5 separate regions of the Homo sapiens genome follow, and all the other regions are linked to region 1. Evidence: fine-mapped expression QTL. A gene starts in region 1. Each other region holds a variant in brackets. All regions are shown on one strand. Distances are between the middles of the regions.

What was found. PIP is the estimated chance that this variant, and not a neighbour inherited with it, causes the effect.
Region 2: its variant is the best candidate, but not a certain one, in a credible set for the expression of MYO5A in lung (TOPMed, PIP 0.87).
Region 3: its variant is the best candidate, but not a certain one, in a credible set for the expression of MYO5A in monocytes after Pam3CSK4 (Quach 2016, PIP 0.90).
Region 4: its variant is the best candidate, but not a certain one, in a credible set for the expression of MYO5A in caudate (GTEx, PIP 0.53).
Region 5: its variant is the best candidate, but not a certain one, in a credible set for the expression of MYO5A in tibial artery (GTEx, PIP 0.77).

Annotation. Positions count from the first base shown.
Region 1 is chr15:52,525,722-52,530,827 of GRCh38, reverse strand. It overlaps MYO5A (myosin VA), which reads left to right and starts at 1,948. Exons shown (of 42, transcript NM_001382347.1): 1 at 1,948-2,048. The coding sequence starts at 2,022. RefSeq lists a silencer at 1,419-2,298.
Region 2 is chr15:52,302,960-52,308,065 of GRCh38, reverse strand. MYO5A (myosin VA) reads left to right here. Exons shown (of 42, transcript NM_001382347.1): 42 at 1-783. It overlaps LOC105370819 (a long non-coding RNA gene), which reads right to left. Exons shown (of 4, transcript XR_932250.3): 4 at 3,566-3,611. Among named protein-coding and RNA genes, the nearest start is that of MYO5C, 9.7 kb to the right of the region's middle. The variant T/C (reference allele first, on the strand shown) is at 2,425.
Region 3 is chr15:52,442,572-52,447,677 of GRCh38, reverse strand. The region is part of intron 1 of MYO5A (myosin VA); the gene reads left to right. Among named protein-coding and RNA genes, the nearest start is that of MYO5A, 84 kb to the left of the region's middle. The variant T/G (reference allele first, on the strand shown) is at 3,131.
Region 4 is chr15:52,337,349-52,342,454 of GRCh38, reverse strand. It overlaps MYO5A (myosin VA), which reads left to right. Exons shown (of 42, transcript NM_001382347.1): 32 at 2,061-2,259; 33 at 4,571-4,645. Among named protein-coding and RNA genes, the nearest start is that of MYO5C, 44 kb to the right of the region's middle. RefSeq lists an enhancer at 3,638-4,214. The variant C/T (reference allele first, on the strand shown) is at 2,661.
Region 5 is chr15:52,432,747-52,437,852 of GRCh38, reverse strand. It overlaps MYO5A (myosin VA), which reads left to right. Exons shown (of 42, transcript NM_001382347.1): 2 at 4,568-4,678. Among named protein-coding and RNA genes, the nearest start is that of MYO5A, 94 kb to the left of the region's middle. The variant C/T (reference allele first, on the strand shown) is at 2,978.

The DNA of each region.
Region 1 (5,106 bases):
AGTATGGCCCCAAATATTTGAGTGGTTGAATGCATGCGTTCTGGACTTATAAGAGGATAATTCCCCTTTCTGTTTTCTCCTCATCACTTGAAAAAAATAGAAAACGAAGAAAGCATTCACACCTACAAGAACTCGTCCAGTTTTTTAGTTTTTTTTTTTTTCTCAGTATACTCAGCATTTCTCGACAGTCCTGAGAGGTAGGTATTATTTGAAGGTGAGAAAACAGGCAGAGTGGTTACCACCTTGCACACGACATGAAGAAACTGCAAGGCGTAGGAGCCAGGCCTCCTAAATCTCAGTCCAGTGCTCCTTCCGTTCCGCTGGTCGTCACTGCACACGTTTTCTCTTTTTATGTCTGGGTGAAGAAAGAGTGGGTCCCAGAAACATGAAAGCGATTTGGTTTTGCAATGGGAAGGAACAGAGACAAATCTGTAGGACTTTCGACTCAGTAGACATTCCCTCTAGCATTTCTGAGGGGATTGTGGGCGAAGAGGAGAGGTCTGAGTTCCACGGAGTAAGGACTGGCCCCGTTCCTTTCAGTGAATGGTCTTTCTCCAAATACACACGCACACAACACACACAACCGGGGGCCTCAGCCATGAGAGTTGTTCGTGATAGAAATGGTCTACCAGATTACCATGACAGGCACTGGGGACCAGTTGTAGTTCAAAGAAACGAGAGATGAGGGCACTACAAAGAGGCAGGGATTAAACAAACAAAAACAGCAACAACAACAACGACAACAATAAAGAATGAAGATTATTCAACCAGAAACGACAATGAGGGTGGGGAGAAGATAGAGGATGAAGACAGCGCAGGGTTGGGAGTAGAAAGACCACATTCTTGTGCTGGATGTTCAAGGATCACCGTGAGGAGAGTGAGGGCGGCTTTGCCCTTTTGATGTTGAGTTAAACTGTAATACAGATTTTCCATGTAAGTACTCCGTCATTTTCAGGTGGCAACCGGATAAACTTCAGGTGCCACCATGGAGCCGACAATCACCAGCAGCGAACAGGACGGGAAGAAGGCTGGGACAGAAGGGTAGTTGCATCTCCGCAAACGCACAGGTCTAGGAAAGAGGCACCTGGGCTGTCCCCGGGCTATCTCGTTTCAAAGTCACTTAAGTTTCTGTAGCTTAGAAGCGGCCCTTGCCCTCTGGTATCGGGAGACGACTTTGCTGCAGACATCGAGGTGCTCGGAATGACCTTGGTGATCAACCTTAACCTGAAATTCCCGGTCCTGCATTGCCCATCTCCCGGGTCACTGCTGCTGACAAGGCTCTTCTACAGTCCTGGGTTATTCTACAGTCTTTCAAGAGGGCTTCCCCTAAATCCTCTCCCTAGGAATGCTTGGAAGGACGGGAGGAGCAGCCTGGAGGCTCCCATCGTTTATTCGGACACAGTAACAGCCCGTGCCATGGCTGCGCTACCGCGGGAGCTAGGCTCCGCAGCAGAGGGCCCCGGGCTCGCTTCGGGGTGGGGGCGCCCGGGGTGTGCCGCGCCCTCGGGGCTCACGTCCCGGGCGGGTTTCCGGGCCTCGGCAGGGCGCGAGGCGGCGGCGGGGCCGGCTGGCAGGCTGATGATGATGATGCTCTGTGCTCGTAGCCGATGGGAGGCAGCGTGAGCCCGAGAGAGCCCAGAGCAGCCGCGGTGGCAGCGCTGGAGCGCAGCCTCCTCCCGCTCCCATAATGCACAGGGCGGCGGCGGTGGCGGCGGCGGCAGCGGAGGCAGCATCGCGGGCCGCCGAAGTGGCTGCGGCGGCGGCGGCGACCCCTAGGACCCCGGGCAGGTGGAGCGCTCGCGGCTGCTCGCGGCGAGCCCGGGAGTGATGGCGAGGCCCCTGCGGGCGGCCAGCGCCTGAGGCGCCCCGCCCCGCCCCGCCCCGCGCGGCCCTCCCCGCCCGGCCCTGCCCTGCCCTGCTCCCTGCCGGCGGCTGCGGGCGCTTCCTAGTCCGCTCGGGCGGCCGCCCAGGCGAGGTGCGGCCTCCGCACAGGCGGGGGGCGTAGGCGCGCGGGGCCCGCCATGGCTGCGTCGGAGCTCTACACAAAGGTAAGGCACCCCGCGGCCGGCGTCGAGGACTGGGGCTGTGCGGCCCTCGCCGCCAGCTGTCAGGCTGGGGAGGGGGCGGGAGCGCCGGGCCCAGGCGAGCCCCACCAGCGCCATCCCCTTCAGCGCCTCAGAACCCTCGGCCCTACCAGCCGGTCGCCCGCTGCGGCACCTTCCTCTTTCGGGCGAGATGGTGAAGGCGGCGGAAGGTGGCCCGCCTCGGGGGTCTCCCAGGCCCCTGCCGCGCTGCTCGAGCTGGGGGCAGAGCGGGCTTCGGAGTGGAAAGGGGGCCCATGTGGATTTAGCAGGGCGGGCGTGCCTCCCCTCCTGCTTGGCTTTGGAAAATTCCCGGCGGGTGGGAGATGCTTGCTCCAGTAGATCGGATGGGTTCTCTCGTGGGGACACGCGCTTAAAATAACGTCTTGTGTTGGTATGCAGTGCCGCTTCTACCGCCAGCTAGCCTTTCTGTGAGGTTATTTTGAATCCTGCAAACGGTGGCCGTATCACCTTTAGCTCCCCAGTTTAGCTGCGCTGGGGGTGGCGAGCCCCGGGGAAAGATGCTGCCGGATGAACGCGAGCTGATTCACCGGCTGGGAGGGTCGGTACTCATTTATCGCTGGGAGTTTGCAACCTGCGTGTAATCCCGCAGAGCCTTGTTAGGCTCCATGTCTTTACCATCCTCTGGGGCAAGCCTTTCCCTTCTGGGTTTGGTTTAAGGGAAGTGGCAGTCTTTTCTTAGACTGACATCAATATACTCAGGGTCTGGCGATCTCTGAATGACATATTATGGAGAACTGTCACTTGAGTGCTGCGCAGATTTGTGATGACCTTTGTGAATATATGTAATCATGGCATTTTATACTGTACACTCATGTGTAGGTAGATATTTTGCCAGATATTGATTACTTCTACATGCAGTTAATAGAGTTGCCTTTTCACATTAGCTTTTGCAACAGAACTTTCATTTAGGGTCCTGTAATCACTGGAATCATTGTTTCCAAATGTCACTGAAGTCCAGGGCCCAAGTTGCAGTGTGTTTTGTAGAGGAAAGAAGACTGGGCATCAAGAGACCTGGATTCAAGCCGGGACTTACTAACTGTGACCTTGGACAAGTCACTTAACATCTCTGGTTCGATTTCCTAATGAGTAAATGCAGTTAATTATACTTGCCTTGCATCCCTTACAAGCTGTTGTGAGAATCAAACTTAATAATCGTTGTGAAAGCTTTTTGTAACCTATGAATTTCTCTGCAAATATGAGATATATGATTAATTTCTTCAACCATGAAATGAGCTTGCATGAAACATTGTCTGAGACCTCTTTCTTTCTAGTTTTAGATTTAACGACTGTACAGTTGGAACTTCTCTCTCAACCTGGTAATTTCTTTAGGCATTGTAGATCTCTAACATATGAACGAATGCAATTGGAAACTGATTAAAAGTAACTTAAACACTTAATATGGTGCTTGCTATGTGCCAGGTACTGTTTTAAGCGTTTTAAAAATATGAACTCATAATCCTCATAAGGAACTTATGAGGTCGATATTAAGAAATATCAAAATCATTTTCACATGAAGAGATAATCAGTCTGTAAACATTCCTTGGTTACTTTGTGTAGCCCATCCCCTCCACTTCTACATCAAGTTTGTCCAACCCGCAGCCCATGGGCCGCATGTGGGCCCAGGACGGCTTTGAATGTGCCCCAACACAAATTCATAAACTTTCTTAAAACATGGGTTGTTGTGTTTTTTTTGCAATTTTTTTTTTAGCTCATCATTTATCATTAGTGTATTTTATGTGTGGCCAAAGAAAATTCTTCTTCCAGTGTGGCCCAGGGAAGCCAAAAGATTGGACACCCTCCGTTCTATATGGTGAGCAGTCATCTTTGAGTCACCTAATAGTAGGCTGCTTAACTAGAGACTGAGTGGATAATAAATTGTTGTTGGATTTCGAATGCTTTTTTCCCCCAGGATAATTTGGGAGAAAAAATTGAAAAGATGTTGTGATTTGTAAATGGTAAAGTTTTGGGCTTCTGTCACAGCTTTATCACAATCTATTTTAAAATTTACCTTTTAACAGCCTGAGGAACATAATGAGACCTGGTCTCTACAAAAAAATTAAAAAGTTAGGCTGGGCACGGTAGCTCACGCCTGTAATCCCAACACGTTGCCGAGGTGGGTGAATCACCTGAGGTCAGGAGTTCGAGACCATCTTGACCAACATGGCAAAACCCCGTCTCTACTAAAAATAGAAAATTAGCTGGGCGTGGTGGCGCATGCCTGTAATCCCAGCTACTCAGGAGGCTGAGGCAGGAGAATCACTTGAACCTGGAAGGCGGAGGTTGCAGTGAACCAAGATCGCGAGCCTGGGCAACAAGAGCGAAACTCTGTCTCAAAAAATAAATAAATAAATAAATAAAAATTAGCTGGGCGAGTTAGTCACGCCTGCGGTCCCAGCTACTCGAGAGCTGAGGCAGGATGATCAGCTGAGGCAGGAAGATTGCTTGAGCCTGGGAGGTTGAGGCTGCAGTGAGCCATGACTGTGCCACTGCACTCCATCCTGGGCAAAACAGCAAGACCGTGTGTTGAAAAAAAATTTTTTTTAACCTCTTTGTCATTATAAAGACAGACTGGCTTAGAGATCAAGACTGAAGTTGGGGCTTACACTGCCTTCTTCTAAATATACTTATGCCTAATTAATAGTCTGGTTACTTGGTTATTTGTTGGCAAATTCTTTTTGTGAATGGGCCTTAGCTTAATGGCAAGCAGAAATACTTATCAGGCATCCTGTGTGCCAGGTACTTTGCTTAATGTTTAGAGGATTTAACAATGAACAAGATACAGTCCTTTCCCTCAACACGCTCATAGTCTGCTTCTTACATTCTTGACCCACTTTGAATCTATAGGGGCATAAATAACCTGCTGTTACCTCAACAGCAGGCAGACAGCTGGTATGATATTTATTAGTAGAAGTTAGGGAATGGGTTGGGACATGGGGAAGGTTGGGCTGATTCCAGAGATAAAAACTACTATTGTAATTACTAGAGGAATAGGAAAATCATT
Region 2 (5,106 bases), 220 kb after region 1:
ATATTTTTATGCATTTTTCAGAGTCAGCAGTTTCAAATCTTATTGTTATCATGTTATAAAATTTTAGCCCACATTTCAGGCTCCGTAAATCATTTGAGCCATTATTTTTTCCCAACAAATGGTGAATTTTTTCTTTAAATGTGGATATATATGTTGTAATTTATGATTCCTGGTTATGTATTTTTGTGGGATCCTGCAGTAAAATTGACTTTTTTGTGTCTTTGGGAGATTTAAATTGCGCTAACAGTGTTGCGCAAAAATGAGTTCATGCCATTTAACATATTGTATTTTAATTATTAACTGTATTAATTTACTATGAAATGGACATCCTTTTAACTAAAATGGAATTGAACATTGCAGTTTTCAAATATTTTTCCTTGTTGGGTCTGGAAAAGGAATTCTACTTTGATCTGCATAGAAAATTTTGATACAATTTTTTGAAAGTTCTTAGGTGAAACATTTACCCATTAAAAAGGAAGCAGAAATACTGAGACATGAAAGGCATTATCAACTAACTCTAGACTCTAGAACCCATTCTAGCATATCTCACGTGCAATTTTTAAAAATAAGTTAATAATTCATCTCATATCAACAAAAGCCTTTGAAACATGGGTTTTCACTAGATATCACCTAGTGCTAAGATAAAAACCAAAACAATATCAGAATTACATTTATGCTCTAAATTTGTAGTTGTCCATTGTTGTGCTTAGTAAATGTGTGTCATTAATGCTGTATTCTCCTAGCTATTATGGAAACTTGTTTAAATAAAGATATGGATATAAAGAGTTTTTGTCAGTGTCTTATAAGCAAATCCACTGCACATTTTAAAACAACAAAACAAGTTGTTTTCCTGAAGACTAGTGAATGTAAATATAATCCCTCCCCATGAGAATATTCTAAGAAGTCTTGGAAATTTAAAAGTTGACGAGTTCCCCTCCTATACTGGACACCCTAGTAATATATATGATAAAGAAGAGAACTGCCAAACACTTAAGCAAACAGAAACAGCTGAAGAAGAGGTAGTGTCTTTTCTTCAAGGGAAAGTCATGCCTAAATATATTGGAATTCTCTGACAGAGAAATAGACATAACCAAGGGAAATTTGATATGCATAATCTACTTAGATTTTCAAAAGATTGAGGGTGTCATTTGTGTCAAAAGTTCTACTTTTAATATAGTGGGACAGTAGACATTTTTTGGCATAAGACATAGATCAAAGAAGTATGCAGATGTGCTTTTTTGGGTAAGGAAACAGAGCAGTTATTCAGATCTGTGGTGGAATTAGTCTCATCTTTATTTATGATAAGGAGAAATTAATATCATCATGTACCACATAACATTTTGGGTCAACAATGCACCGCATATATGACAGTGGTCCCATAAGTTTATAATACTGTATTTTTACTGTTACCTTCTCTATGTTTAGAGAAACAGGTACTTACCATTGCCTGCAATTTGCAGTACAGTAATGTGCTATACAGGTTTATAGCCTGGGAGCAATAAGCTATTCCATATAGCCAGGGTGTATAGTAGGCTATACCATCTAGGTTTGTGTAAGAACACTCTGATATTTGCACAATGATGAAATTGCCTGATGATGCATTTCTCAGGACATATCCCCTTTGTTAGTAATGCATGACTATGACTGTACATGGTTTTCATGTAGATTATACACTTCCTACTTCCATGACACATTCATTCAACTCATTTATTAAGTACTTTTCTGGGCACCGCAACAGGCCCTTGAAATATAGCATCTTCCAAATTAAATTCAATCACTGGCCCCATGAACTACAGCAGAACACCAATATGTTACAAGTAATAAAATGTCAAAATTTGCAAACAGTTTCTTTTTTTCTTTTTTATTTTTGAGACAAAGTCTCGCTCTGTCGCCAGGCTGGAGTGGAGTGGCGTGATCTCAGCTCACTGCAACCTCCGCCTCCTGGGTTCAAGTGATTCTGCCACAGCCTCCCGAGTAGCTGCTACAGGCACCCGCCACCACGCCCAGCTAATTTTTGTATTTTTAATAGAGACGGGGTTTCACCATATTGGCCAGGATGGTCCCGATCTCTTGACCTCGTGATCCGCCCGCCTTGGCCCCCCAAAGTGCTGGGATTACAGGTGTGAGCCACCGTGCTCAGCCAACAGTTTCTTTTTCTAAATTAATTGGAACCAAGGCAAGATTATTTCCCAATAATAAAATCACGCTCATCCAGTTGCATTTTGGTATGATCATTAGGATTCTTTCTGGGGCATATGACAAAAATCAAACTCAAACTGACCCAACCAAGAAGGAAATGTATTACCTAACACAATTAAAGTTCAGAGATATATCCAGGTGCCCAAACATTGACATCAGGGATCTCCTTTTCTTTCCTTACTTTTGGCTTCATTCTTAGTCATGTTCTCCCTCAAGTGACAAAGA[T/C]GGCCCTCAGTAGTGTTTGGCTTCATTCTATGGCTCTGCCTTCAGTAATTCTCAGTAAGGCATTTCAGGATGGAGTCTCAGTGGCTTAAGTCCTACTTCCATCCTCAGAATAATCACTGTGTCCAGATGAGTGCTCTGACTGTCCTAGCCTGACATACCCCCCACTGAAACTAAAAATTGGGTAATTCACAGAAAACATAGGATTGATTAGGTGGTAGTGGGAGTTCACCAGAGGAAAGACAGAGTATAGTTCACAGAGGAAATGAAAGCAATGCATGTCTACAGTAATGCATTCTCCTGAATGGGAAAGAAAGGGACACGAATTGTGTGCAGCACTGGGAGTGTGCCATCCATGTGAAAGTGTGGAGCTGCTGGGTGGGTTTCCTGGGTCTTAGCAGTCAGCATAAGTGCACAAAGAAGTAAGCAAAGTGTTACACAACAAGAATTTTGAAATCACATTTACCACCCCGGAAAGGGACCTGGGAAGACATGTGATTTGTTCACATTGATCACCTTGCTACTGAAACCAAAATATGATGGACATTATTCAAAAGGAGAGAAATAAAACCTGCCATACAGACCTCGTTAGCACCATGTTGGCCAGCTATGGGCAGTTCTGGTCATTGGGTTTCAAACAAAACACAAGGGAATATAAGAGGTTCAGAAGAGAATAAGAGATAACTGAAGGAAAAGGATACTACTCATAAGAATGGTTTGAAAGTCCTGAGACAATTGGGCCTAGAGAAATGAATGCCAAGAAGGTAAGAATGTGGGCAAGTGCTAAAAAATTATGCTTGGTTGGGCCAGGTGCAGTGGTTCACACCTGTAATCCCAGCACTTTGGGAGGCCGAGGCGGGCAGATCATGAGGTCAGGAGATCAAAACCATCCTGGCTAACATGGTGAAACCCCGTCTCTACTAAATAATACAAAAAATTAGCCGGGCGTGGTGGCGGGCGCCTGTAGTCCCAGCTACTCAGGAGGCTGAGGCAGGAGAATGGCATGAACCTGGGAGGCGGAGCTTGCAGTGAGCCGAGATTGCGCCACTGCACTCCAGCCTGGGCAACAGAGTGAGACTCCATCTCAAAATAAAAGAAAAAAAAATTATGCTTGGCACAGATAAGGAAAACATGAACTACTTACCAAAACTTAAATATGGTAAACAGACATTTTGAAACTTCAGCAGTTACTGGAAAAGAAAGAAAATACTAGTTTATGTTGTCAACCATGTATATCTGAAGCTCATTTCCTAAGAGTCTATATTATCAAGAAAGCTAAATGAATTTGAAGAGAGTTTGGTCAATGCTACTTGTGACCAAAAAAAATTTCTACTGAGAAGATCTGGGTTGTATCAAATCTTCAGGTTATAATCTAGGAAGACAAATGGTTTCTTTTCACATGTACACCCATGGTCTGCGAAAAATAGGTCTCCGGGCTGAATGGCCTGTGTCTAGGATGACCCTAGCTAGGATGGTGATTACTGTGCAAAAGAATGGGGCTCCTTTTGGAGGGAAGTAAGAAGCTGTTAAAAACAACCTCATGAAAACAGAAGGGAGGGAGGAAAATACAGGTAGGAATGGGGTTGGTCAACAGAAGTGAGATGGGCAAAGAAAGACAGGCCAAAAGCCCATGGAAAACCATTCTTGAGTTGACATTAAATACAACAGGAGAAATATTTCTCACATTTCAAAAGTAGCTTTTAGGAATTCCACTTCTGACATGATAGCATGAGGAGCTTTGCAGACAACTCCCAAGGGAAACCAGTGAAACCAGTGAGAATTATTTTAAAAACAAACCAAACCCCCAATTCTTTAAAGTCTCTAGAAATGGTCCTAAGGGCATACACCAAATGAAGAAGTGCTTATTCAAGAAAACATACTAAAGCTTGATAAAGAGAATGAGCTTGTTGTATCTGAACCAAGATTCCTCCCTCCTTCCATCTTCCAGGTCAATGAGACAAAAACTCCACTCTAGACTGGTATAGCCAAGAACTCAGGGCTTCCTCTCTGCCAGCTCACAGTTGGAGGGCTGTCTTCCTGGGAGGGGCAGGATGTCAGCACTTCTCATCCTGCTCCCAGCCACCTCTTGCTTAAGCTAAGTTTCAAATAAATGCAGTCAACAGGTGGGGGGGGTCCCTTCTACCCAGCCCCTACTCATGGCTCACAGGCTCTACCTTGGGGACATCACTGCTGAAAATACTGGGACCCCAGTGCATCTTGTTCAGGCTTTTAAGGTGGTGCTCTCATCCTGGGAAAGGCCAACCAAAAAGACCTAAGGCCACTATCCCCCATCCACCGAGCATTTGGCTCCCATCACTCAAAGAGATGCAAGCCATTGTCCTCATCCCCAGCTCCAGAACAATGGCTCAGAGATTTTCACCAGGAGCAGAAGCAGGCTGTAAAACAGAAAGCTCCAAATTACTTCCTAAAGGAACTGACTTCATTTGCAAAAGAGTGTGGAGAAGTTCAAGCCTAAGGGCGTTTCAAAAACAGTGAAGGTTGCAGTGACTGGGGATTGGGAGGGGATTGGTAGATTCATTAGAGTTATCGGCTGAACTTTAGGCTATAACTTTCCTGGAGAGAACTGGGAGAAGAGACAGCCAGGAGGAGTCCTTGCAGGATCAGAACAAGTCTCAAACATTGACCTCAAGAACTATCCTTTCAAAGGAGCCCAAAATTGATCAG
Region 3 (5,106 bases), 83 kb after region 1:
ATATCCCTATCAGCATTTTGGTCATAACCATTCAATAGGTCTCTAGGAAGTTCCAAACTTTCCCTCATCTTCCTGTCTTCTTCTGAGCCCTCCAAACTGTTTGAACCTCTGCCCATTACCCAGGTCTAAAGCCACTTCCACATTTTCAGGTATCTTTATAGCAATGCCCCACACCTCATTACCAGTTTTCTGTATTAGTTTGTTCTTGCATTGCTATAAAGAAATACCTGGGACTGGGAATTTATAAGGAAAAGAGGTTTAATTGGCTCATGGTTCTGCAGGATGTACAGAAACCATGGCTGGGGAGGCCTCAGGAAGCTTCCACTCATGGTGGAAGGCAAAAGGGGAGTGGGCACATCACATGGCAAGGATTGGGGAGAGAGAAAGCAAGAGAGAGAGCGAGAGTGTGAGTGAGTGATAACGATCTTGCGAGAACTCACTATCACGAAGACAGCACCAAGCCATGAGGGAGCCGCCCCCATGATCCAAACACCTTCCACCAGGCCCTACCTCCAGCATTAGGGATTATAATTTAAGATAAGATTGGGTGAGGACCAATATCCAAACCATATCATTCCTCCACTGACCCCTTCCAAATCTCATGTCCTTCTCACATTGCAAAATACAATCACACCTTCCCGACAGTCCCCCAAAGCCTTGACTCATTCTACTATTAACTCAGAAGTCCAAATCCAAAGTCTTATCTGAGACTTTTCTCCTTCCACCTCTGAGCCCATAAAATCAAAACAAGTTGACTACTGCCAAGATACCGTGGGGTATGGACATTTCTCCCATTCCAAAAGGGAGAAATTGGCCAAAAGAAAGGGGCTACAGACAAGTTTGAAACCTAGCAGGGCAATCATTAAATCTTAAAGATCCAAGATAATCCTGTTTGACTACACGTCCCATCCAGGGCACACTGATAGAAAGAGTGGGTTCCCAAGGCCTTGGGCAGCTCTTTGTCTGTGGCTTTGTAGGGTTCAGCCCCTAGGGCTGTTCTTATGGGTTGGAGTTGAATGCCTGTGGCTTTTCTAGGCTGAAGGTGCAAGGTGCCAGTGGATTTACGATTCTGGGATCTGGAGGATGGTGGCCCCCTTCTCACAGCTCCACTAGGCAATGCCCCCTTGCAACTCTGTATAGGGCCTCCAACCCCACATTTTCCTTTGGCACTGCCCTAGTAGAGGTTCTCTATGAGGGCTTTGCCCCTGCAGGAGGCTTTTGCCTCGGCACCCAGGCTTTCTCATACATCCTCTGAAATCTAAGTGGAGGCTGCCAAACGTTCTTCACTTTTTATTCTGTACACCTACAGGCTTAACACCACATGGAATCTGCTAAGCTTTATGGCTTGCATTCTTCAAAGTGGCAGCTTGAGCTGTACCCCGGCTTTTTTGACCCTTGGCTGGAGCTGGAGCTGGAGCAGCCAGCACGCAGGAAGCAGAGCTCTGAGGCTGTGCAGGGTAGTGGGGCCCTAGGCCTGGCCCTCTACACCATAATGTCCTCCTAGGCCTCTGGGCCTGTGGTGGGAGGGGCTGCTGGGAAGGTCTCCGAAATGCCTTCCAGGCCTTTTCCCCATTGACTTGGCTGTTAGCACTTGTCTCTCTTTTAGTTATGCAAATTTCTCTAGCAAATGGTTGCTGCTCCACAGCCTGCTTGGATTTCTCTCTTGCAAAAGCTATCTCTGCCACATGGCCAGCCTGCAAATTTTCCAAACTTTTATGCTCTGCTTCCTGCTTAAATATATATTCCAACTTTAAGTCGCTTCTTTGCTCCTGTACCTGAGTGTAGGCTGTTCGAAGCAGTCGGGCCACATCTTGAATGCTTTTCTGCCTTGAAATTTCTTCTGCCAGATACCTTAAATCATCACTCTGAAGTTCAGTTCCACAGATCCCCTAGGGCGGGGGCCACATTGTAGCCAAGTTCTTTGGTGAGGCGTAACACACGTGACCTTTGCTCCAGTTCCACTAAGTTCCACATTTCCGTCTGAGACCTTCTCAGCCTGGCCTTCACTGTCTGGATCACTATCAGCATTTTGGTCACAACCATTTAACCAGTCTCTAAGAATTCCAAACTTTCTTTCTTCTTCCTGTCTTCTTCTGAGCCTTCCATATGCTTCCAACCTCTGCTGTTACCTAGTTCCAAAGTTGCTTCTACATTTTCAGTTATCTGTATGTGAGGCAATCCCTCACTCCTAGTACCAATTTTTTGTGTTAGTTCATTCTTGCATTGCTATAAAGAAAGACCTGAGACTGGGTAAGTTATAAGAAAAGGGGTTTAATTGGCTTACGGTTCTGCAGGCTGTACATGAAGCATGGCGGCATCTGCTTCTAGGGAGGCCTCAGGGAGCTTTCACGGTGGAAAGCAAGGCAGGAGCAGACACATCACATGGCAAAAAGCAGGAGCAAGAGACAGAGAAGGTGGGCGGAGGTTGCAACACATTTTAAAATGCCCAGATCTCACGAGAACTCACTATCACAAAGGCAGTAGCAAGCCATGAGGGATCTGCCCACATGATTCAAATACCTCCCACCAGGCCTCACCTCCAGCATTGGGGATTACATTTCAACATGGGATTTGGGCAGGGACAAATATCCAAACTGTGTCATTTCCCAAGTTAGCAAAAGACCTAGAAGTGTCGATTCCCAAAGCTGGGGAGCAACACAAAGGGAGCTGCCTGTTATAAGTGGGAGGGAAATACATACCGGCACCTGTCTATTATTTCCCAGGTACTGTTTTGGCACCTTATCCATATTGTCTCATATAATGTATGTGTTGTTTGATGTTTAATGCCATGATTCCTTAAATCTTACCATGTTAAGACATTTTAGTTAAAATTTAAAAAATTACCCATGACTTCTTTCATCACTACATCATTTATCAGGGTGATAGATAGTCTATGTGGGAGGAAGACCCCTATATAAAGAGGCCTGTACATATTTAATATGACTTCCATTTAATACTTTTTTCTACATTGAGAACAAGTGTTGAAAATGATAGGAAAGTGTGAGTTGTTTTGCTTAGTTGAGCAACTTTGGTCCCAATCAGGAGAAAGTGATTCAATGAGATTGTGTTTTTCTTATTCTTCCTTATACAACCTAATCATTTTGAAATCAGAGATCTTTCTCGGTTTGAA[T/G]TCTGCTTCTGCCATTTATTAGCTGAGTGACTTTGGGGCAAGTTATCTAACTTCTCTCAAGTGTTTTGTTGAATAAGGAACTTCTTTAATAATAATTATAAAGCATATTATGAGGTTAAGTAAAGTTAGGACTTTTCTTTATCCTGATCAAAGTCCTGTGATGAATACAACCTATATAGTTCGCTTCCCTGTTGGTGATTCTGTTTTACCTTTGATTATTTTAATTATTTAGAATTTTGTGGTTTAAAATACCACCAGCTAATTATAGATGGAAATACTAATTTTTCTTGATATGCATATTAACACTGTTCTTAAGAAGTGAGATCTAGTTCTGAAAATAATCTTTACACGAATGTTAAATAACTACAGTGTCTAAAAATACTCATTCCAAAGCTCTGTCATCTCACATAAAATTTTAGAAAAATAAGAATATTTAATTTTTGCTACTTAATGGTGACAAAGCATATCCATCAATTTGCAAGTTCTTGTTTTCTTCCTAAATTTAAAATGATAATTTCAGTGTCTGGAGGGAGCTGACTTGAACTTGATTTTCCTTTTTTTTTTGGAGACAGAGTCTTCCTCTGTTGCCCAGGCTGGAGTGTAGTGGCACAATCTCGGCTCACTGCAACCTCCGCCTCTCAGGTTCAAGCAATTCTTGTGCCTCAGCCTCCCAAGTAGCTGGGACTGTGCAGGTGCGTGTCACCACTCCCAGTTAATTTTTTGTATTTTAGTAGAGACAGGGTTTCACCATGTTGCCCAAGCTGGTCTTGAACTCCTGAGCTCAGACAATCCACCCGCCTCGGCCTCCCAAAGTGTGATTTACTTTTTTTTTTTTTTTTTGAGATGGAGTCTTGCCCTGTCGCCCAGGCTAAAGTGCAGTGGCCCAGTCTCAGCTCACTGCAACCTCTGCTTCCCTGGTTCAAACAGTTCTGCCTCAGCCTCCCGAGTAGCTAGGATTACAGGCACCCACCACCATGCCCAGCTAATTTTTGTGTTTTTAGTAGAGACGGGGTTTCTCCATGTTGGCCAGGCTGGTCTCGAACTCCTAACCTCGTGATCTACCCGCCTCAGCCTCCCAAAGTGAAGCGTGATTTACTTTTAAACCAGGTACATTTCACAGTATATGCAAGGTAACTTGCAGAGTCAGCAAAAAAATAAAAATTTTAAGTCAACCCTATGATTTTGTTCATTTATAGAAGTTCATGAACCTGAGCTCATTCATTAAAATTTTAGTCTTCAGCATCCTCAGATTGTTTTTTTGCTGTTATTGACTAACCTCATTTTTGGTAGAGCCTTCATTCTCTTGTCAGAGCTCATTGGAACACTGCAGGATGGATGGCAAGCTGATTGGCATGGCTTTGACATGTTGTCTTAGATGAGACATTCTTAAGTTTCACCAGATGACATGGGCCAGTTTAATAGCTGTTTTCATTATGATACCAAGAACAATTTGGGGGTGGAGGAGGGGAATTCCTTCATAATAAAATCTACTGTTTTGGCCAGGCACGGTGGCTCACGCCTGTAATCCCAGCACTTTGGGAGGCCAAGGCAGGCGGATCACAAGGTCAGGAGATCGAGACCGTCCTGGCTAACACGGTGAAACCCTTTCTTTACTAAAAATTAGCCAGGATTGGTGGCATGCACTTGTATTGTAGTCCCAGCTACTTGGGAGGCTGAGGGAAGAGAATCGCTCGAACCTGGGAGGTGGAGGTTGCAGTGAGCCGAGATCGTGCCACTGCACTCCAGCCTGGGCAACAGAGCAAGACTCTATCTCAAAAAAAAAAAAAAAGAAAAAAACTGTTTTAACAATGGGTGGGCATAGTGGAGTAGAAAGAATGTATGGCTCCTAGAGTAGACTTGGAACTTCATCTCTATCATGTTTAAGGTTTAAGCCTCAATAGCTGTTAAAATGGGTTAGTACTGGGGTTAGTTATTGTGATTATTTGAATGAAATTATACATGTAAAATACCTGGGC
Region 4 (5,106 bases), 190 kb after region 1:
TTATTACTGAGACAGTGGCTTCTCATATCCTATAGATAGATCTACAGGATATATGTGTCTATGGCAATGTGGCTACATTTTTCTTTTCTTTTTTTTGACACAGGGTCTTGCTCTGTCACCCAGGCTTGAGTGCAGTAGCATGATCACGGCTTAATTCAGCCTTGACCTCCTGGGCTCAAACGATCCTCCTGCCTCAGCCTCCTGAGTAACTGGGACTGTCACAAGCATGTGCCACCACACTCAGCTAATTTTTTTATTTTTTGTAGAGACAGGGTTTCACTTGGTTGCCCAGGCTGGTGTCAAACTCCTGGGCTCAAACAATCCTGCCTCGGCCTCCCAAAGTGTTGGGATTACAGATTTGAGGTACTGCGCCCAGCCTACCTTCTTATATATTATTATCATGCTGTCTAAAAGCAAGATGAAATGCATGATTTGGCACTCTGTGTGGTTATTATGAAATTCACATTTGTGAAACAGCAAATCAGGAGAGTTTTCTGCATTGCTATAGCTCAGAATAATTACCCAAATTCAACCCGTTAAATATGTTCAGAGGAGAGAAAATAAAATTGAAACAGCAGCACCTTTCTAACACAGACATTCATCTGCTCTAGTGATATTTGTCTTTAAAATCTCATTAAAATTCTATTTTAGTGATTAAATTTTTAAAACACTCAAATGTTTGTTCAAGGGGCTTCTGCTTATTCTGCTTTGTTCTCATCATTAACGCTTGTCATTAACTTTGGGGTGTTATTGCTGCAGATCTTTTTGAAATGTTTTAATCACTAAATATTTTTAGTCCACTGTTAACAGTTTGCTTGCAATGGCATCATTAAGTTTTACCCAGCAGTTGGCAACCAAGGGACTGGAATAAAAGAATGTCTTTTCTTTCTTCACATTAGTTAGTTCTTAACCATAACTTTGCATTTGGAAGAGAGTGACTGTAGAAGCAGGGGTGCGTGGCAAAGGGAGGATGCTCTGACTCTGGTGTTCTCACTGCCAATGCCTGGTCTGCTCTGTGGGCACAGCTGGCTGTATGTTTGCTTGGAAAAGCAATAACCACTTTTTTGGTCCTATTAATATTTGTGTTCTAAAACCACATCTTGTTAGGATTCTGTTTCTGATATGTAAGTTTATGCGGAGAGAGAAGATGACAGATCTAAAATATATATAGGAAATTTCAGAACTATTTGTGTGGATTCGGGTAAATCTGTATATATAAGGCTGGAGTGGTGTTCCAGCCTTTCTGTCTTTCAGAATAGGAGTAGAATATAATTCCCTCTGCCTGGAATTAGTAACTGTAGTTCTGAAGGCACATTTAGTTAATTTGGAAGTTTATAATGTTGGCCTTTATAGTGCAGAGTTGTTTTGTGGCAAAGGTGTACTGTCTTTGCCAATTTAAATGCTAATTTATAAATGCAAATGCAAGGCAAATTAAAGCTGTTTTTTTCAATTGATTTTTTTTTTTACATCCTCATTTCCTATGACCCTCTTTTTTTTTTTTTGAGACGAAGTTTTGCTCTTGTTTGTTGCCCAGGCTGGAGTGCAATGGTGCAATCTCAGCTCACTGCAACCTTTGCCTCCTGGGTTCAACCAGTTCTCCTGCCTCAGCCTCCTGAGTAGCTGGGACAAAAGGCATGCCCCAACACGCCTGACTAATTTTTTGTATTTTTAGTAGAGATGGGGTTTCGCTATGTTGGCCAGGCTGGTCTTAAACTCCTCATCTCAGGTGATCCGCCTGCCTCAGCCTCCCAAAGTGCTGAGATTACAGGCGTGAGCCACCACACCCGGCCTCCTATGAACCTTTCAAGAGAACTAAAACTCTCCTGTTTCTTAGGGCCTCTGAGAACTTTATATAATGCAGAAAGACACAAATGTGAGAGCACCCGTTTCTATTTCTGCTTCTTGTTTTAGTTTCTTGACTTTAATCAAGTCAGAAGATAACACAGATACTAAAGAATATCTGCTTTTCCTACTCTTGCAAGTGAACACGATGCCTTACACCCGTTAGGCAGCAACTCGGGGTGTCGTCTCCCCTTCCGACCCATGTGTCCTCTCCGCAGGCTCCTGGAATCCCAGCTGCAGTCACAGAAGAGGAGCCATGAGAATGAGGCCGAGGCCCTCCGTGGGGAGATCCAGAGCCTGAAGGAGGAGAACAACCGACAGCAGCAGCTGCTGGCCCAGAACCTGCAGCTGCCCCCAGAGGCCCGCATTGAGGCCAGCCTGCAGCACGAGATCACCCGGCTGACCAACGAAAACTTGGTAAGGAGAGCTGCCGGGTCCACATGCTTCTTAACCTAGCCTGCCCGACAGTCTAGTTTCTTTTTGATCAAACACGGGTTTTTCTTGCTGGGAAAAACTCACCCCTCTGTACTTGTTACCCCTCTTACTCCAGCAGAGACAGAGTAAGGAAAATACAAATATTTTGGTAGGAAGGAAGAAGGCACAGGTTCTCTTTATCACGGAGGGCTGCGTGCTCTTAGACCTGCCCTGGAGGCAGACAACCACCTGGGTGCAGGCTGGGCTTTTGATGGCAGGTGATCTGCTTCCTCCATTTCAGCTGCAGATCCTCTGCCATCCTAGGTTTATTATGTGATTGTCACAACTGAGACTGGGGACAGGCTTCCTTTACCTTTGGTCCCCAAGCAGCCACTGAGGCCATC[C/T]CAGGCTCCACCTCTAGCAGACAAGTAGGGTTAGAGTTGAGGTTGAGAAAGGCGGTTGGCAAAACTAAGCCGGGGTTTTTGGTTGATGTTGGATGGAGCTCCCAGGTCAGGGAGGTGTGTGTTAGGATTCAGGTTTACATATTTTCTGTTCTTTTAAACAGAACTTGTATAACAAGTGAGGAAATTGTCTTTTTCCTTGTCAGATTCTAAACCCTGGCATGGAGTCTGACTGTTTTCTTTTCTTTTTTTTGCCTTGTTCCTTTTTTTTTTTCTTTTGCCAAAAAAATTTTCTAAAATATTTCTCAGTCACATAATAACTTTTATTACTGATTTACAGTTTTTTGACAAATATATTTACTATATTAAAAATCCTTAAAAAGTGATAATTTCATATTTCTATATAAAGTCTATATTGTAGTGCTAGCCCGATTTTGAGAAAAATTGTTTAGGATTGGTGGTGATTTGTGTCTTTTTTAAATTAACATTTTTAATGACCTATAATAAAATAGTATGAATTTTCTCTGAAGATTTAACAATCTGAATTATCCCTCCATTACTCCATTTGTGATAATTTACATTACAAACAGTTTTCTAGTGTCATTTATTCAACCATCTTTTATATGAATTAGAAGCAAAACGCAAAGGTATTCTTTTTCACAGTCTGTCTGTATGAGGCTCCACCATGGGAATGAGGGAGGAGGGTGGGGGCAGTGTGTGGGCTCTTTCCAAAGTGATTGACATCTCACTAATTTGTGGGGAAAATTTTCTGAATCATGAAATATTTTTTGAAGTGTTATTTTACAAAGCTCAAGTATACTGTTGCTTAAATTAAACTAACAATGCTTTGATGACTAAGTATTACCAAATATACTGAATAATATAATAAGTTGATTGATTGGCATACAAGTTCTGTGCTTTAAATTATTGTTTTAAAATACAAGGTGAAATCGTGAAATAAAGATGCTTCTGGGTGGCAGATTTCCAGGGTTTTTTCACTAAGTTGGTCAGACATTTCTCTTGCAACCTTGTTTGCAATATTAATTTTTTTGGCAATTTTTCATAGCTAATACAAAAAATAGACTAAGCCCCTATATTCTAAGCTAATAGAGCCCAGTTAATGAATTTGAGTTTGGGGAAAACCTTTTGTAGGTCAGCTGCTTCTCCTGCCATCACACTGACTACTAATTCAGGAGGATGGATTCAAACATAAGTACAGGAAATGATAGACTTTTTCAAAATCATTGTTTTCTCAATCTTAATTGTGCATTTCTATAAGAAACACTTGAGTAGGATATTAAAGCCCAGCAGGAGACCTGGGCTTAGTGCTCTTGAAACTCTACCTTGCCCACCTACCTACCACCAACACAAAACACAAAAATGATTTTTCTACCTCATCTAGTGAACAGGCTTCACAGGCCTCCCCCGTGCTGTCTTTCAGCGAAGGAAGATGCACAGCTTCCCACCAGCCTCTCCAGCTTCACAAGCTAACATTGCTATTATTCTCACTTTTATTATATTTACCTCCCCTATTCTTGCCACTGCTGCTGGCGGCAAAAAAAAAAAAAAAAAAGTGCAGCAAGTTGTGAGCATCATGTGTTGGGGAGGCTGGGAGTAAAAAGGCAGGAGGTTGGAGGAGGGAAATGACAGCCTTATCTGGGCCTGCTAAGTGATGGCATCCTGGCCACAGCCTCTTTCCTTTGTTCACACAAGAAACATCTGTACATATGTAATTAGAATAATCTATACTAGAAAGATAAAAGGGTAATGGAAGGTGACAAATCAGAGCCTTTCAAGTATATATAGTTTCACTATTTGTATTTTAAAATATTTTAAAATTGATTTTGCTGAAAGATAGCATTTCCCTCAAACACACAGACAAAAACAAATATCCATTGTGCCTGTTTTTTCAGTATTTTGAGGAATTATATGCAGATGACCCTAAGAAGTATCAATCATATCGGATTTCCCTTTACAAACGGATGATTGTATGTAAAACCATAGTGCTTTTCTGCTGTCTTCCCTTGCTACTTATAGCCCTCTGTAACTGAAGAGCACACTGCTGCCTGCCCCCTCCCAGGAAGTCTCTTCAAAATTTTCACGAAACCTGTTTCTCCCCACAGCTGTCTTTTAGCCAGTGGTGTCACCTCTGTCAGTGTCCTGAGTCCATTGTCACGTTTGGTTTGTTATTAACACTAGGCTTACAGTGTGATGGAAGCAAAATGTGATTTGAAAGGTCACGTAAAATCCAAGAAGTACAACTTAACACTTTGAAGAGATAGCAACTGTTCCCTTTAATGGTTGGCCTAGTAGCTAAATCTACTCCTGTCTAAACTGGAAAATGAATATTTGTATTTGGAATGCCTTTCTTCTCCATAACCTGAATAACAGACCACACACATTGCTGACTCATAGCCCTTCTAAGCTGTTACTGAGCCTACTGTTGTCC
Region 5 (5,106 bases), 93 kb after region 1:
CCCTTGGAAATCTGGTCTTTGGCAAAGTATCTACTTTTTGCAAAATACTTGTGGAAATCTGAGCTGGAGCTCCCTACTAACACAGAACATGAAGGCACTTTCTAGATTTAAAGTCTCCTCATGTTTAGGCACTGGTCAGTCATGCTTCTACAAACTCACTTGGACACATTTTCCTTTTTTGTGTTTTCATCAGTCAAGGTGATAGGTCATTTCATGATTCTGAATATCTCTCTCTCTTTTTTTTTTTTTTTTTTTTTTGAGATGGAGTCTTGCTCTGTTGCCCAGGCTGGAGTGCAGTGACTTGATCTTAGCTCACTGCAACCTCCACCTCCTGGGCTCAAGTAATCCTCCCACCTCAGCCTCCTGAGTAGCTGGGGTTACAGGCACGAACCACCATGCCTGGCTAATTTTTGTATTTTTAGTAGAGGCGGGGTTTCACCATGTTGGTCAGGCTGGTCTCTAACTCCTGAGCTCAAGTGATCCGCCTGCCTAAGCCTCCCAAAGAGCTGGGATTACAGGCATGAGCCACTGTGCCCAGCCCGACTCTTAATCTCTTTATATTTATATATCTTTTCTGGAACCAGTAGTGCCTTCCAGAGAAAGCTACAAAAGTGCTGTCTTTGTAAAGTAAGCTTCAGAGTGGGAGCAGTTAGTACATAGAAATATTTATTACATGAGTAAGGCTTTAGTGATATGTACAGATATTACTCAGTTTATGGACTGTGTCCCTGGGAAAAAAGTTGTAAAACAAATTTCAGTAACATGTTTGATATATGACATTAGAAATCACTTCCTATGGGAAAAACAGTAACAACCCCACCTTGTACTTATATATTGGTTTATACTTTTCATGAAGTTTCTATGTGCGTAAGCCTTTGCAATAAACTAGAAGACTATTGTTGTCATCCTCATTTTATTGTTGCCTGAAATAAAGGCCAAGGCCCATCTGGTGGCCCTGGGAGTAGAACCCATAGTCTAATTCCATACTCTTTCCTCTGCAAACTGTTTAGATTAAAAGTTTGTATGTGTTGGTAATAATAAGAGAAAATTAAAGCAATTGAGCGAGCTTTTAATCATGCTACTTATATTCAATTTAAAGAGATGCCTTTTATTCTGATCTTCTTTCGATAAGTTCTTACTAAGCACCAGCTCTGTGTCAGGTACTGTTCTAAGTACTGCCTGCTGTGTTGAACAACACAGACACAGAACTTATGTTCTAATGAAGGAAGAGAGATAGTAAATAAGTAAACAAACAAGAACATAACAGCAGGTGATTTCAGATAGTGAATAAGAGTGCTGAAGAATGTAAAATAGAGAATGGTAATAGTAGTTTGGATTGATTTCCGCTAGAAAGGTCTGGGAAGGCCTCTCTGAAGAGGTTTACATTTGAGCTATCATATAAGTGAGAAGGAGGCAGACATAAGCAGATCTGGGAGAAGTACATTATAGAGGGCTTAACAAGAGCCAGGGTCTAGAGACAGGAGCAAACAAAACTGTGTTCCTGAAGAACTAAAATAAGATCTGCATAGTGCCGGCTTAGAGGTTGGCAGGGGAAGGAAAGGACAGGTCATGAAGGCCCTTGTAGAACATGGTAAGGGATTTGTATGTTAACTATGATGGCCAGGCCAGGTGTGGTGGCTCACGCCGTAATCCCAGCACTTTGGGAGGCCAAGGTGGGAGGATCACTCTCTGAGGCTAGGAGTTTGAGACCAGCCTGGCCAACATGGCGAAACCCTGTCTCTACTAAAAATACAACAACAACAAAAAAGTAGCCAGGTGTGGTGGCAGGCACCTGTAATCCCAGCTACTTGGGAGGCTGAGGCAGGAGAATCGCTTGAACCCCAGAAGCGGAGGCTGCAATGAGCCGAGATCATGCCATTGCACTCCAACCTGGGCAACAAGAGGAAAACTCTGTGTCAGAAAAACAGAAAACAAAAAAACTGTGATGGCTATTTGTCCTACTGTTTTCTTGTTAAAATGTCCTTTATTTTGTAAAACGATGGTGATATTAGACAGTAAATTGGTATTTATGTTGCCTCTGCTGAGTGTGAGGGCTTTAGCCTCTACTTGTCTGTAAGTGCTGCCAATAATTAATGGTTTTATAATCTTACTTGTCAAGACTAAAAGTTAGTTAATAACCTTATATCAGTCCCCAAACTTTAAGTAAAAAATTTTACCAGCCATGAAATCTAGTAGTTTGGAAACTATGGCAATATACCACAGCAGCTTCCCAATAGGAAGGCTTGAAAATATTTGTCAGTAAAGAGGTTAACATAGGCTGGGCATGGTGGCTCATGCCTGTAATCCCAGCACCTTGAGAGGCCAAGGCGGGTGGATCATGAGGTCAGGAGATCGAGACCATCCTGGCTAACACGGTGAAACCCTGTCTCTACTAAAAATAGAAAAAAATTAGCTGGGTGTGGTGGCATGTGCCTATAGTCCCAGCTGCTCGGGAGGCCGAGGCAGGAGAATCACTTGAACCCAGGAGGCGGAGGTTGCAGTGAGCCGAGATCGTGCCACTGCACTCCAGCCTGGGTGACAGAGTGACAGAGTGAGACTCCGTCTCAAAAAAAAAAAAAAAAAAAAAGAGGTTAACGTAATATCCAGGACAGTGGCATGGCATGCTGAAATGTTTTTCTTAATTTAAATTATCTTGAATCTCAGATCTACCTGTACTTTCGTTCACCCACTTTCTTTTCGCTTTCTCCTATCTGTAAGTTCATCACTGGGTCATATAAATTTCTCTTGTACTTGGGAATGACCTTGTTACAAGCTTCCAGAACTTTGTGCCCAGTACTTAGAATAGTCATTACATTATCACAGTTCTTTGGGAAGTTGCCCCATATTTAACATACTCAAATCCAAATGCTCCTTCTCAAAGCTCCAAGTAAATTAGTACCCTGATTATTGTTAAAAATGAAATCTAGAGGTGAATTTACATGAAATGAGGATACAGATACAGGCCAGAGACCGGGTT[C/T]AGTCTGGCCCATGCCAGCCATGATTGATTGTGTCATGTCTTTCCCTTGCTGGCTGAATCTAGGATTCCTGTTTTCATATGTGATTTGTTCATGAAAATGGGCATTTAGGTTTAGTGTATGTGTGTTTTAAAGGGAAATTTCTTCCCAGAGAGTCCAAGCACATAAAAACACTTCTTCAATGTGGTATTCGAAAGATTTGTGCATGTTAGTATATTTTGTTCTTTTTCTTCAAAATTGACCACATAATCTTCTGGCTTATGTCCAGGGAGTATCTAGTTGAGGCAAAATATTTGCTGCTTTGGGAATCCCTGATGATTACCATGCCTTTTTCATGATGTTGAGGCTACAGGAGCTAAGCTTATTAGTGACTGGCTGTGCCATTTTTACCATTTCCCACTCATCTTTATAAAATAATGAAGGCAAAATGCTGAACAACCGTGTTTCTTCAGTTTTAAAAAATCTGTTATTTTTATTCTCCTCTTCTCCCTACTGTGATGGCTCCTGAAGGATGTCTGAGAAATCACTAAGGCTTTGCAGAGCACAGGATGCAAACCACCATAAAAAAATCCAAATTGTGGGCCGGGCACGGTGGCTCATGACTGTAATCCCAGCACTTTGGGAGGCTGAGGCAGGTGGGTCACGAGGTCAGGGGTTCGAGACCAGCCTGGCCAACATGGTGAAACCCCGTCTCTACTAAAAATACAAAAATTAGCTGGGCACAGTGGCACATGCCTGTAGTCCCAGCTACTCGTGAGGCTGAGGCAGGAGAATCACTTGAACCCGGGAGGCAGAGGTGGCAGTGAGCCGAAATCGTGCCACTGCACTCCAGCCTGGGCAACAGAGCGAGACTGTATCTCAAAAAAAAAAAAAAAAAAGAAAAAGAAAGAACAAAAAAATCCAAATTGTAAACCCAGCCATAAAAAGATGGCAGTGCTGTTGAAACTGGCAGAACCACAACACCATAGCTTCAAAAATAGATCTTATGTGTACATTTTAACCTAAAATTATACTTTCAGGTGGCATTTACTGTGTAAAGCAAAGTCAAGCTTTGATCATAACTGTTTTTTCAGAGCACACTTTTTATATAATTTGGGAATGGTGGTGCTATGAGAGCTAAAATATTTTTTGTTTACTAATTTAAAAAGTAAATTTCAGCTGGACGTGGTGGCTCACACCTGTAATCCCAGCACTTTGGGAGGCTGAGGCGGGTGGATCACCTGAGGTCAGGAGTTTGGAGACCAGCTTGGCCAATATGGCGAAACTCCATCTTTATTAAAAACAAAAAAATTAGCTGAGTGTGGTGGCAGGCGCCTGTAATTCCAGCTACTCAGGAGGCTGAGGCAGGAGAATTGCTTGAACCCAGGAGGCAGAGGTTGCTGTGAGCTGAGATCATGCCACTGTACTCCAGCCTGGGCAACAAGAGCTTAACTCTGTCTCAAAAAAAAAAAAAAAAAAAAAAAAGTGAATTTCATGTTGGCCAAGATTTCTTTTTTCATAAATTGTTTAATTATAAATAGTTATCATATGTTTATATATGATTGTAAAATAATTGATTTGCTAGTTTAAATTTTTTTCTTTTTGTCTTCTAGTTTGCCAGGGTTTGGATACCTGATCCAGAGGAAGTCTGGAAGTCAGCAGAGCTGCTCAAAGATTATAAGCCAGGAGATAAAGTCCTCCTGCTTCACCTCGAGGAAGGAAAGGTGAGATCTCACTTTCATTTGTTGTCATTGGCATAAAGTGAAGGGAGTTCAAAAGTGTAAATTTACTGTGAAGTAAACTCCCAATGGAAGTTAAATTTTGAACTTACCTAGAATTTTTACTTACTAAATTGGTAAAAATGGCAAACTCAGTTTTCTATCCTGATAGTGTTTTTAATGGCATAGATTAGTGAAAATAGCAGATACTTTAAAAAGCTTCTATTTTGGCCTGTGAATTTATTATGATTATCAGGTTTAGATTCACATCTAATCCTAAAACTCTTGCATTTAACTGGTGTGCTATGGGGAGTGCTTGTAGTGTTTTTAAAAAGAGGCATGGTGCCAGGTCTTAGAGGAGACTCATTGGTGGCAGCATGGAGAGCAAAACTGAGGGGAAGATACTAGTTGGGAGGAAGGCGGGGAAGAATTAG